Linked DNA regions of Homo sapiens: region 1 is linked to region 2. Evidence: fine-mapped expression QTL. A gene starts in region 2. The other region holds a variant in brackets. All regions are shown on one strand. Distances are between the middles of the regions.

Region 1 (5,313 bases), 27 kb before region 2:
GAAGGCAGGAAGAGGGGCAGAGAGCAACTCGGCTTTGGAGGTTTCTGGCTCTCTCCCAGGCCAGAGACCCATGGAGAATAATGGACAGGCCCACCCCACCCCACCCCTTCCCCCACTGAGACCCAACTCTGTCCGTTGGAGCCTGTCCTCCTTCCCCTCTGCTCCAGGTCCCACCCACCTCCCTCACCTGGCTGGGCTCCTTCCCACAGGAAGGCTCCAGCTCCAGCCCGTTCTTGCACCATGGGGAGACAGGGTACAGCTTGGGAGGGGAAAAGGGTGGAGGGGTAGGCAGTTTCTGCAGGTAGGGAGAGTGAGGAGTGGGAAGGGCTTACCTGGCTTCTGAGGTTTCATGCCCTCTCCAGCACCTGGAGAGATGCGAGTAGGTGAGGGACCCATGCCCACTCCTCACTGAGGGGTCTCTTCCAGACCTGGCATCTGTCCCCCACCTGGTGCCCATGCCAACCTCCCCTTCCTGGTCCATGACCAGTGGGAACTGCAGGGTCTGTGGGGGCGGCATGGGGAGAGGTTGGGGTACAGAAGGGGGCTGGAGCCTGGCCCCCCTTTCCTCCCAATTTAGGAACTGGAGCTCCCAGCACCTCCCTCCCCCTTGTGCCGCCTCCTCTCCAGACTCTACCCCGTCTAAGGCTGCAGGAGCCCCCAAGAAAACCCTCAGTACAGGGTCAGGGGAGAGCCAGGCCCCCACCTCTTTCCTCCTTTCTGCACTCCCAGCAACTCCAGCCCCCCAGTACCTGCTCTGTAGCCATTCTGGGCTAAGGGGCCTGTGGGGAGGGAGGGGTGAGCAGGGGGTTTGGGATTCTAGCTAAGGAGAGGGCGAAGGGCCTTTGGATCCCCTTTCAGAGCCAAGTCAGAAACCAGGGATCCTGGCGCCACCTCTCCTCCCTCATTTTGGTGTCCACCTGCTCTGGAGGCCTGGGAGGGAGACAGGGACATCAGCCCGACACCCCCTCACTGGCTCGGCTCCCAGCCCCCTCCTGAATGCCGATGGAGCTGAGGTGGGGTATGAATGAGGGAGGGAGCTCAGGGTTTGGGGGAGGCAGAGGGACAGGCGGGGCAGGGCTCACCTGGCTTCTGGGCCTTCATAACCCCCAAATAGCCTGGTGAAGAGAAAGGGAGCAAGTGAGGGACCCAAGGCCTCCGCTCTGGACCTCCTGGAACCCCAGCCCTGCCCCTTCCTGGTCCATAGCCGTTTGGAGCTCCCAGGCCTGTGGGGCAAAAAAGGGAACGTGGTAAGGCTGAGCCACTGGGGGACAGGGAGGCAGGGGCCAGGAAGGGGGCTCTCAGTCTCTCCCCAACCTCCTCTCCCCTCGGTCCTCGGTGCTCCTACAGACCTCCCCTCACTCATGAGGCAGGGGTCACCCCTCCCCTGGGAGTCCCACGCAGACCCAGCTAGAACACCAGGATCTAGGGGAGGTGGGGCCACAGACACAGGCAGTCCCCTCACCTGGCATCTGAGGCTTCATCCCCGCTCCTAGGCCTGGGAGAGACAGAGAGGCTGACATCAACTCCAGCCAGTGCTGCTGATCCCCAGACCCCAGCTCTCTGTCCCTGTGGCCTCAGCTTCTCTCTTCCCGTCCCACCTCCCGACCCCTCGCGAGCCAGGCCCAGCTGCCCTCACCTGGCTGGACTCCCGGTCCATTTCCATGGCCATATTCTAGGGGGAGGGACGGGGAGGGTGTGAGACGGCGGCATTCGGAGGGGGTGTCAGGAGGACGCAGCCCTAGAGACAGGGCGGGGGCCCAGGGCCCTGGGAGGGGGCCTGGCTCCCCCTCCCAGGCCTACAGAGAGACACAGAGGCAGAGCCACATCCGGCCAGCCAGTGGCACTTAATTCCCCAGGATTCAGACCCACACTCTGCCCTCCCGGCCCCCTGGCCCGATCTTTGTCTTCCCCCTTCCCTCTAAGAAGCCTGGGCTCAGCCCGGTGCGGTGGCTCACGCCTGTCATCCCAGCACTTTGGGAAGCCAAGGCAGGTGGATCATCTGAGGTCAGGAGTTCGAGACCAGCCTGAGCAACATGGTGAAATCCTGTCTCTACCAAAAATACAAAAATTAGCCAGGTGCGGTGGTGGGTGTCTGTAATCCCAGCTACTTGGGAGGCAGAGGTAGGAGAATTGTTTGAACCCAGGAGGTGGAGGTTGCAGTGAACCGAGATTGCGCCACTGCACTCCAGCCTGGGCGACAGAGCAAGACTCCATCTCAAAAAAAAAAAGCCTGGGCTCCTACCCCAGGTGTCCTCACCTGGCTGGGTTCCAGCCCCAGGGAAGGCCCCTGCTCTCAGCCTTTTCCCATATCCTGGAGAGGGAGGGAGCATGAGTAGAGTGCTTATGGCTTCAGGGGTTCGTGCATAGAGAGGCAGACCAGGGCGGGCGGGGCTCACCTGGCTTCAGAGGCTTCACATTCCCTCCAAGGCCTGGAGGAGATATAGGGGGGCTGGTGAGTGACTCAGGGGCCCCACCCACATTCTCCCCCAGCCCCTCCCCACCCCTGCTCCTACCTGCTCCAAATCCAAATCGGTTCTGGGCTGTCAAGACTATGGGGAGAGGAGGGTGGGGTGGGGATTTGGGGTTTGGTTGAGGTGGAGGTAAGGGAATCCTGGAGGCTTCCTCCCAGCAGCCCTTCAGTTATTCACCAGCTCAGCCCCCCATGAGACTGGGAAGGGAGGCAGGGAGAGGACGCCCCAGGGGTAGAACCCCAGACCCCATCTGTCTCACCTGGCTGAGCACTCAGCCCATTCCCATTCCCTAATCCTGGGGGACAGATGGAGGTGGGGGTGAGAGGGGGAAGGGGGCTCTGAACACTGGGGAGACAGAAGCCCGGGAGAG[C/T]CAGGCTTACCTGGCTCCTGTGCCTTCATGTCCCCTCTAAAGCCTTTGGGAAAATGGGGAGCAGATGAGGTACCTAGGAGCCCCCAACTCAGATCCACCCCAGAACCCCAGCATCTGGACCCCAGCTCCTCCCATCCCCCTCAGGACCTGCTCCAGGGCCATTCTGAGGTGGGGGGCTTGTCGGGGTGGGAGGGCTGAGCTAAGCTGGGGACACAGCGCCTATGGTTCCCCTTCAGGGCCAAGCCAGAAGCCAAGGATCTTGGAGACGCCCCGTCACCCCTCTCCATCATTCACCAATCCCGCCCCTGGGAGGAAGAGGCCGCCCAGATGCAGACCCTGGAACCCCAGACTGTACCCCCTTCACCTGGCTGGGCTCCCAGCCCAATTCTGTACTGGAATCCTGGGGGAATAGATCAAGGCGGGGTATGAATGAGGGGAGGGAGCTCAGGTTTTGGGGAGGCAGAGGGACAGGCCGGGGCAGGGCTCACCTGGCTTCTGGGGTTTGACGGCCCCCACATAGCCTGGTGGAGAGACAGGGAGCAGGTGAGGAACCTGGGGCCCCAGCTCTGGGCCTCCCCAAACCCCAGCCCCGCCCCTACCTGGTCTATAGCCATTTTGAGTGGTGGGGCCTGTGGAGGAGAGAAAGGGTTAAGGCCCTCCGGAGCCCTGGATGCCATCTCCAGCCACCTCGGGCAGGGGTGTCCCCACCCCCAACTTCAACGAGCCAGAAAGGCAGGTTCCTTTCCTCAGCAGCCTCCAACTGTCAAGCTCCAGCTCCTGCCACATCTTGGGTCTGAGCTCTTTTTTTTATTTTCTTGAGATGGAGTCTCGCTCTTGTTGCCCAGGCTGGAGAGCAATGGCGTGATCTTGGTTCACTGCAACCTCCGCCTCCCGGGTTCAAGCAATTCTCCTGCCTCAGTCTCCTGAGGAGCTGGGATTACAGGTGCCCGCCACCACGCCTGGCTAATTTTTAGCATTTTTAGTAGAGACGGAGTTTCACCATGTTGGCCAGGCTGGTTTTGAACTCCTGACCTCAAGTGATCCGCCCGCCTAGGCCTCCCAAAGTGCTGGGATTACAGGCGTGAGCCACTGCGCCTGGCCAGGTCTGAGATCTTGCTGGAGCCTGTACCTTCTTTGTTCAAAACTCTCCTTTTGGTTCAGTTTCTCAGAGGGTTGGGCCACTCTCTCCTCCCTGGCCTCCACTGCCTCCTAAGAACTCCCAGAGCCCAGCTCTGGGGCAGCCTCAGCCCATACTGTATGCCCCAGCGTGGCCCTGGTTGGGGAGGGCCTGTCCCCAGCACCTGGTTGGCTCAGAACAGGCATGGTCCACGGATTACTTTGGTTGTTGTTTGTTTGTTTGTTTGTTTTTGAGACGGAGTCTTGCTTTGTCACCCAGGCTGGAGTGCAGTGGCACGATCGGCTCACTGCAAGCTCCGCCTCCTGGGTTCACGCCAGTCTCCTGCCTCAGCCTCCCGAGTAGCTGGGATTACAGGTGCCCACTACCACGCCCGACTGATTTTTTTGTATTTTCAGTAGAGACGGCGTTTCACTGTGTTAGCCGGGATGGTCTTGATCTCCTGACCTTGTGATCCACCCGCCTCAGCCTCCCAAAGTGCTGGGATTACAGGCGTGAGCCACTGAGCCCGGCCTGTCTGTTTTTTAAACAGGATCTCTCTCTGTCACCCAGGCTGGAGTACAGTGGCAAGATCTCCACTCACTACTACCTCGACTTCCTGGGCTCAAGTGATCCTCACCTCTCAGCCTCCAGAGTAGCTGGGACTACAGGCACGTGCCACCACAACTGGCTAGGTTTTTTTTTTTTGTAGATGGATTGCTTGAGCCCAAGATTTCAAGACCAGCTTGGGAATGTTGCCCAGGCTGGTCTTGAACTCCTGGGCTCAATTGATCCACCTAACTCTGCCTCCCGAACTGTTGGGATTACAGGTGTTAGCCACTGCTCCAGGCCTGGATTGGTTTGTCGAATGAGGTTTGTTGTGTGAGACCAAGTTGGGAGGCTAGAGATTGGGGCTCGCCTGCTCTCTGAGCCTTTAGTCCCCCTCCCAGGCCTGGGAAGAGAAGGGGAAGGACTTCCTGTGAGTCCACCCATCCCTTCCTCTCTGCTCAGGACCAGGGCCAGGCCCCTACATCAGTAACCCCCAACCCCTAAGACCTCCATGCTCCCAGAACTCCAGGGCCTTACCTGCCTGGGTTCCAGCTCCCAGGAAGGCCCCGACTCCCCACCCATTCCTATTCCCAAATCCCAGGGGACAGAGCCAAAGAGAATGGGGAGATCAGGGACTCTAGGGAAGCAGCGGCAGATGCATAGGAAATGGGCAGGGAGACAGGGACAGGGAGTGGCTCACCTGGCTTCTGGGGTTTTCCACCCCCTCCAAAGCCTGGGGGGAAGATGAGAGGGTGAGGGATCCTTTCCTCTGGGCCTGTGCCCAGAATCTCAGCCCCAGGCTCCCCGCT
Region 2 (5,353 bases):
CCGAGCACTGGTGGAGGGGGCGGTGAGAGCACGCCAGCCGGCCACACCCGACAACACAGTGTAGCCCACCAGGGCAGCCGGGCGCAGCCAGGGCCTGCAGGCCAGGGTGCAGTGGATGATGGGCAGGGCCCCTGCACAAGAGGAGAGAACAGGAGAGGGCATGTCATTGTGAGGGTCCACCCGCCCTTCCCTACCCATGGCTTGTATGCGTGCCCCATGCCTCTCCCGCCGGTGGCTCCAGCTCCCATCCCTTGGGCCCTGACTCACCAAGGGTGTTGACAAGGCAGACCCCACACATGTCCAGGGCGAGGAGCCGGGCGTACACAGCGCTGCCCCCTTGGTGGCACATAAAGAGGTGATAGAGCACGGAGCCTGCAGGGGGTGCAAGGCAGGCCACGCAATGTGTGCCTCCCAGCCAGCCATCCTTGCCCAGCTGACCCCAGGGCATGGTCATTGGCACCAGCACCAGGAAGCCCAGCAGGGCCAGCCCTAGGGAGGGAGACAGTCATCTACCAGATAGTTTCAGTCACATCCTCAAGGGGACCACGGTTCAGACACAACACAGGACAGGGCAAGACAGGTCCAGGTAATGCTGTCATCCAGTTGGCGGCCTGGCCTTGGCCAGAGACAGGCCCTGGGCAAAAGGCTTTTGGCACTGGTTACTTATCATGGCTCAGGATGGTCTGGGAAGTAGAGACCATGATCCCCACTTTGCAGGTGAGGAAACAGACTTGGAGGGGCTGAGTGACCGGCCCCGGGTGAGCCCAGCAGGTAAGCAATGGCAGAGGACAGGCCTAGGCCGTCCCACTCCCACACTGCTCTCCCCATACAAGCAGGTCACAGGAGAAGGCTAAGGCAGCGAAACCTCAAGTTGAGTTGTGAAGAGGACACATGAGCAGTGATGCCAGCCCGGGGCCACTTGGCTTGCTCTTCCCAACCCAAGTCCTCCCCTCTCCATAAGTGTCCAGACAAATGGAGGCACTGGGCCTTTTTATCTTCTATAAAGGGGTGAGGCCAGGTGGGGGAAGACAAGTCCAGAATGAAGGGAAGGGGGCTTCGAGGGGCTTGTCCCATCTCCCCAGACCTCTCCCTGGGGAGTTTGATTCCAGCCTAGCCCTTTCTGGGAGGTCTCCACCCCTCCCTGCCGGCCTCTAGTACTGGCCTCCCAGGGGCCAAACGGGGCTCCGAAGGCTGCCCACCCTTGTGAGAATGTGGCCTGGCAAAAGCTCGGGAAAGGCACCCAGGCTGGGCCAGGCCGCTCAGGGCCCCTTGCCCGCCTGGGGCAGCTCAAGGACGGGCAGGGCTGTGTCAGCAGAGCTCCGCGGGGCGCGGAGGAGGGGCCGGACGCCTGTTGGGGGAAGAAGGAGCCGCCACCAGGCGGAGCCCCAAGACAGAGCGGCTTGGGGCGGGGGCGTCAGGACGGCGGCGCTGGGAGGCTCCTCCCGGGCCCTCCTCATCGCAGTCAACACCATCTCCCGGCTGGGTGCTGGCGGGAGGGGGTTCCCAGGGCGCTGGGATTACAGAGGCCGGACACCATGCTCCCTACCCCTGGGGCTCAGAGGGATTAAGCAGGCTCAGACCCTACTCTGCTCCCCTCTCCTGACCCGGCCCCCACCCGCCGGGAAAACGGAAGCTGGCAGCGCGGCCCGGGACAATGGCAGCTTTGTCACCGCGGCTACTGGCGGTGCCAGGGCCGGGGCAGCCCTGGACTTGGGCGCTGGGGCCCTCCTCGGCCTCAGTGCCCCCGGCCCAACGCAGGTAGGGCGGCCGGGGGTGTGGGAAGCGCGTTGCGGGACGCGGCTCACCGTGCGTGTAGATGTTGCCCAGTTCGTTGTGCAGGTAGAAGAGGCTGCGCAGGCAGCCCGAGCCGCTGCTGGCGGGCCGGTACCCGGTCAGCACGAACTTATTGAACTGCAGGTGCGGCGGCGAGCTGGCCCAGTCCAGCAGGCGCGGCCCGGCCAGGAACGCCATGGTCCGCACCGCGCGGGCAGCCCGTGCTCCTGCTGTCCCCGAGCCTCCTCCTCAGTGGGGCCGCAGCGCGGGAAGGCCCATCACTGCCTGGCGCCCGGCGCCCGGCGCCCACCCATCGCCCTGCGCTCGATCGGCGCACGCGCTGGCTAGGGGGTCCCAGCCCGCGCCCCTCCGGCGCTGCGCACGCGCGAGTCCGTCGCCCCCGCGCCGGGGCGGAGGCTGGGGACGCACCGGACGCCTGAGCGCACTGCGGTCGGCTCCGCCAAGGCAGACGCGCCGCAGGGACAGCTCGCGGCGGCGGCGGCGGCGGTGGCCGGTAGTCTCTCTGCAGCCAGGAGGACGGGCGCGGCCGGACGCGGGAGGGGACGCCAGGCTCCGCCCAGGCTCCTAGTTCCCGCCGGCCGGCCAGCGTTTCGCGCGCCGGGCTCCTGACGTCGGCGCAGCGAGAGCCAATGGGCGTGGCCGGCGGGGAGGCTCCGCCCCGAGGCCGCCCAGGCCTCGCCTCCTAGCATAGTGTGCGCGCTCCCAGCCTCATTTGCATGGGGTGGCTGTGGGCTTGCGACCCAACGTTCTGGGTCCTGCGGGCTGCGCTAGAGTGACCCTGGCACCTCGCGTCCCTCAGAACTGTGCATCCGGGCTTTCCGCGTGACACCCAGGTCTCCGTACCTTTGGGCACCCACCCTCGGGGGCATAGTCCTGCCACCTAGCCCTACCCTGCAGACGGGGCTCTGTCCAAGGTGCTGCCGGACGGGTCCGGCCTACATCCGGTACGCCCCCGCTCCAAAGTGATCTTTCCGCAGGCTGGACTCCCGAGTGCAGCAAGGCGCTCCACGGTACCCAGGCCTCTGAAGGCGTGCCTCACGCGCCCGCAGCCGTCGGGAGAGGCCCTATCCTTCGCGCTAGGCTTCTCGGAGCGTGGGCCCGGCCCAACTTGCTCCCAGTTATCGCCCACAAGGAGCACCCTTGCGGGGCCCTACCGAGGATAGACAGGAAACAGATTGGAGGCCAGGGGAGCAAAGTCGACCTCCGCCCCGTCCACCCTGAGCAGGGACCGGGAAGGCACCCCTTATTCAGCATAACGCTGCCCACGATCCTCCTCCCCTTCCACCCCCCGCCTTCTACAGGACTCCACCCACCCACCCATCTGTCTGTGTTCTAGGTCCTTCTCTGCATTCCAGGCAGCTCCACCAAAGTCTGCGTGCAACGCCCTTCATTTGCATGGACACACGCAACCCTCGGCGTTTGTATGGTCATTAACATGCTCCTCCCACCACGGAAGAACTTTCGAGGCCCGTACCAAAGTAGATCCTTTATTCAAAATCTGTGGGGGTTTTTTGACTGTTTTTGCTGACCTGTGACCTCTCACTGAGGACGGCAGTCCAGGACCACCCCCAGAGGGGTTCAAAGACCTCCGAAACCAGAGACCACCCCCACATACAGGTCCATGGAGAGGGCCTGGACCATCTGGACCCCCACGGTCAGGCCAAGTCCCAGATAATAGCACCAGATGTTTCCTGTCCGACTTTTGGTCTCCCCAAGGCGACCAGAGGCCGAGCTGCCCCTACACAGGCGCAAGGCCGAGGCAGGGCGCAGCACAGCATCTCAGGTGTCCATCTCGCCGGCGGCGGGCCCAGCGGACCCTCGGGGCCCAGAGTCAGAGAGCGGAGATGAGCGAGCGCAGGGAGCTCTGGCTGGAGGCACTCAGAGGCCGGTAGCCCGCGGCAGAACCCTCAGCCTGGGGGTCCCCGGGGGAGCAGGGCAAGGCCACCCCTCGGGGCTGTTGGTACCACACAGCCCAGCTTCTCCTGGGGCCCCTGGAAGCCCCCAGCGCCGGGGGCCCTTTTCCCGGAGCCAGCAGACAGCTCCTAGAGAGGGAGCAGACATCAGCCGAGCCGGTCCAATCCCGCTGCAGCGTCCTGCTCTACCTGCGATCCCGCGCGCGATCCTGTGCGTGGACCCAAAGCCTCGCTCCCTTAAGAACCCAGGAGTTCCTTCCTAGCTCTGTTCCCTTCTGGGGCTCCAGCTCCCCACCACCGGTCCGCCCTCAGGCCCTGCCCCAGCGCCCCGCACCGTCGGCGCAGCGGACGCAGCAGCCCCAGGAGCAGCAGCAGCAGCACCGAGACAGCCGTCACCGTCGAGAAGACCCGGGCTGCGGGCACACGGCTGCGGTGAGGATGGGCGCGAGGGGGCGGCTCCCTGACTCACTCCCGTCCCGCGCGCCCGCCTCACCCCCAATCGCGGCCGGCGGAGCCCCAGGCCTGGGGCTGCAGCTCACGTTGGCCCCGTCGAGGGGCGCCGCGGGGGTCTGGGCCGAGCCCTCGGGGGCCTCTGGGTCCTCAGCGGCGTCCTGCAGCCCTGCGGAGAGGGGCGTGAGGCGGGGTGGGGAGAGCGGGGTGGGAACAGCGGGCAGGGCGCGCCGAGCTGAGGCTCACCGCGGTAGGTGAGCGCGAAGCCTTGCGCGTGGCCGCGCGCGTCGCTTCGGAAGGTGAGCAGCAGCGCGGCAGTGCCCAGGCGCAGCGGCCCGGACGGCGGTGGGCGGGCGCCATCGAAGGCGCGGAGCAGGCTGCCCGAAGCCGCGTCGCGCAGCTCCAGCCGGTCGCGCGGGTCGGCCAGCTCGAAGAGGCGGAAGGTGAGCTCCAGCGCGGCGCCTGGCGGGCCCAGGGCCCAGCTGCAGTTCCGGTCCGGCCCGTACTCGTCCGGGAAGTCCGGGGAGTAGATGACGCCCTGAGGCGCTGTCCAGTTCCCCTGGCAGGAGCCCACCGACACTGCGGGCGGGGCCGGCAGTCAGCATCCTGAGGACCAGGACACGGCGGCTCCCCTGCCCGGCCAGGCCCCACCTCGAGGCCCGCCCAGGCCCCTGGTCCCCGCCCACTCCTCACCTTCATAGACGCCCAGCCGCCCATCGCCGCCACACAGCTGTCCAGGGTGGCCGAAACAGATCTGGTCACAGTCGGTGGCGGGGGCCAGGCGTCCCCGGGCCAGGTCGCTTTCAGAGCCACAGAAGCAGGCGTAACCGGCCTCCACGCCCGCCAGCTGGGAGCACAGACTGGGTGACCCCAGGGCAGGGGCTGGGGTAGGGGTGAAGTGGTGGGGGCCTGGGGTCGGGGTGGGAATCGGGCTGGAGGTTCAGAAACCGGTGTCTGGGTTTGGCAACCGAGTGTTGGGAGTTGAGTGTGGTCTTTAGGTCCAGGTCAGGGGTCACTGGTCTGGGCCCGTGAGCAGTACCTGGTACCCCTTCATGCGGCAGAAGCGTAGGCACACCTGGACCGTGAGCTTCGTGGAGGTGCCGCTGGGGCCGCTGAGGGCTGGGGGTGCCCCTGAGTCCACAAAGCATCCCAGGTAGCCTGGCACTGAGGGGGCAGAGTCAGACTTCCGTGACTCC

What was found.
Region 1: its variant is fine-mapped to the expression of PAQR4 in whole blood (INTERVAL, PIP above 0.99).

What each region holds. Positions count from the first base shown.
Region 1 is chr16:2,992,855-2,998,167 of GRCh38, reverse strand. GREP1 (glycine rich extracellular protein 1) reads right to left here. Exons shown (of 29, transcript NM_001396456.1): 11 at 5,205-5,237; 12 at 3,441-3,470; 13 at 3,330-3,362; 14 at 3,206-3,241; 15 at 2,852-2,884; 16 at 2,514-2,549; 17 at 2,397-2,429; 18 at 1,637-1,672; 19 at 1,463-1,495; 20 at 1,083-1,115; 21 at 333-365. Among named protein-coding and RNA genes, the nearest start is that of GREP1, 7.2 kb to the right of the region's middle. RefSeq lists enhancers at 1,655-2,627, 3,947-4,448. The variant C/T (reference allele first, on the strand shown) is at 2,842.
Region 2 is chr16:2,966,293-2,971,645 of GRCh38, reverse strand. It overlaps PAQR4 (progestin and adipoQ receptor family member 4), which reads right to left and starts at 2,298. Exons shown (of 3, transcript NM_152341.5): 1 at 1,806-2,298; 2 at 268-489; 3 at 1-131. The coding sequence starts at 1,971. KREMEN2 (kringle containing transmembrane protein 2) reads right to left here. Exons shown (of 9, transcript NM_172229.3): 4 at 5,197-5,321; 5 at 4,851-5,004; 6 at 4,404-4,736; 7 at 4,201-4,326; 8 at 4,042-4,120; 9 at 3,266-3,836. The coding sequence ends at 3,626. RefSeq lists enhancers at 1-44, 2,794-2,873, 2,327-3,316 and silencers at 1,294-1,433, 1,704-1,823, 1,854-1,903, 1,914-2,083, 2,114-2,533.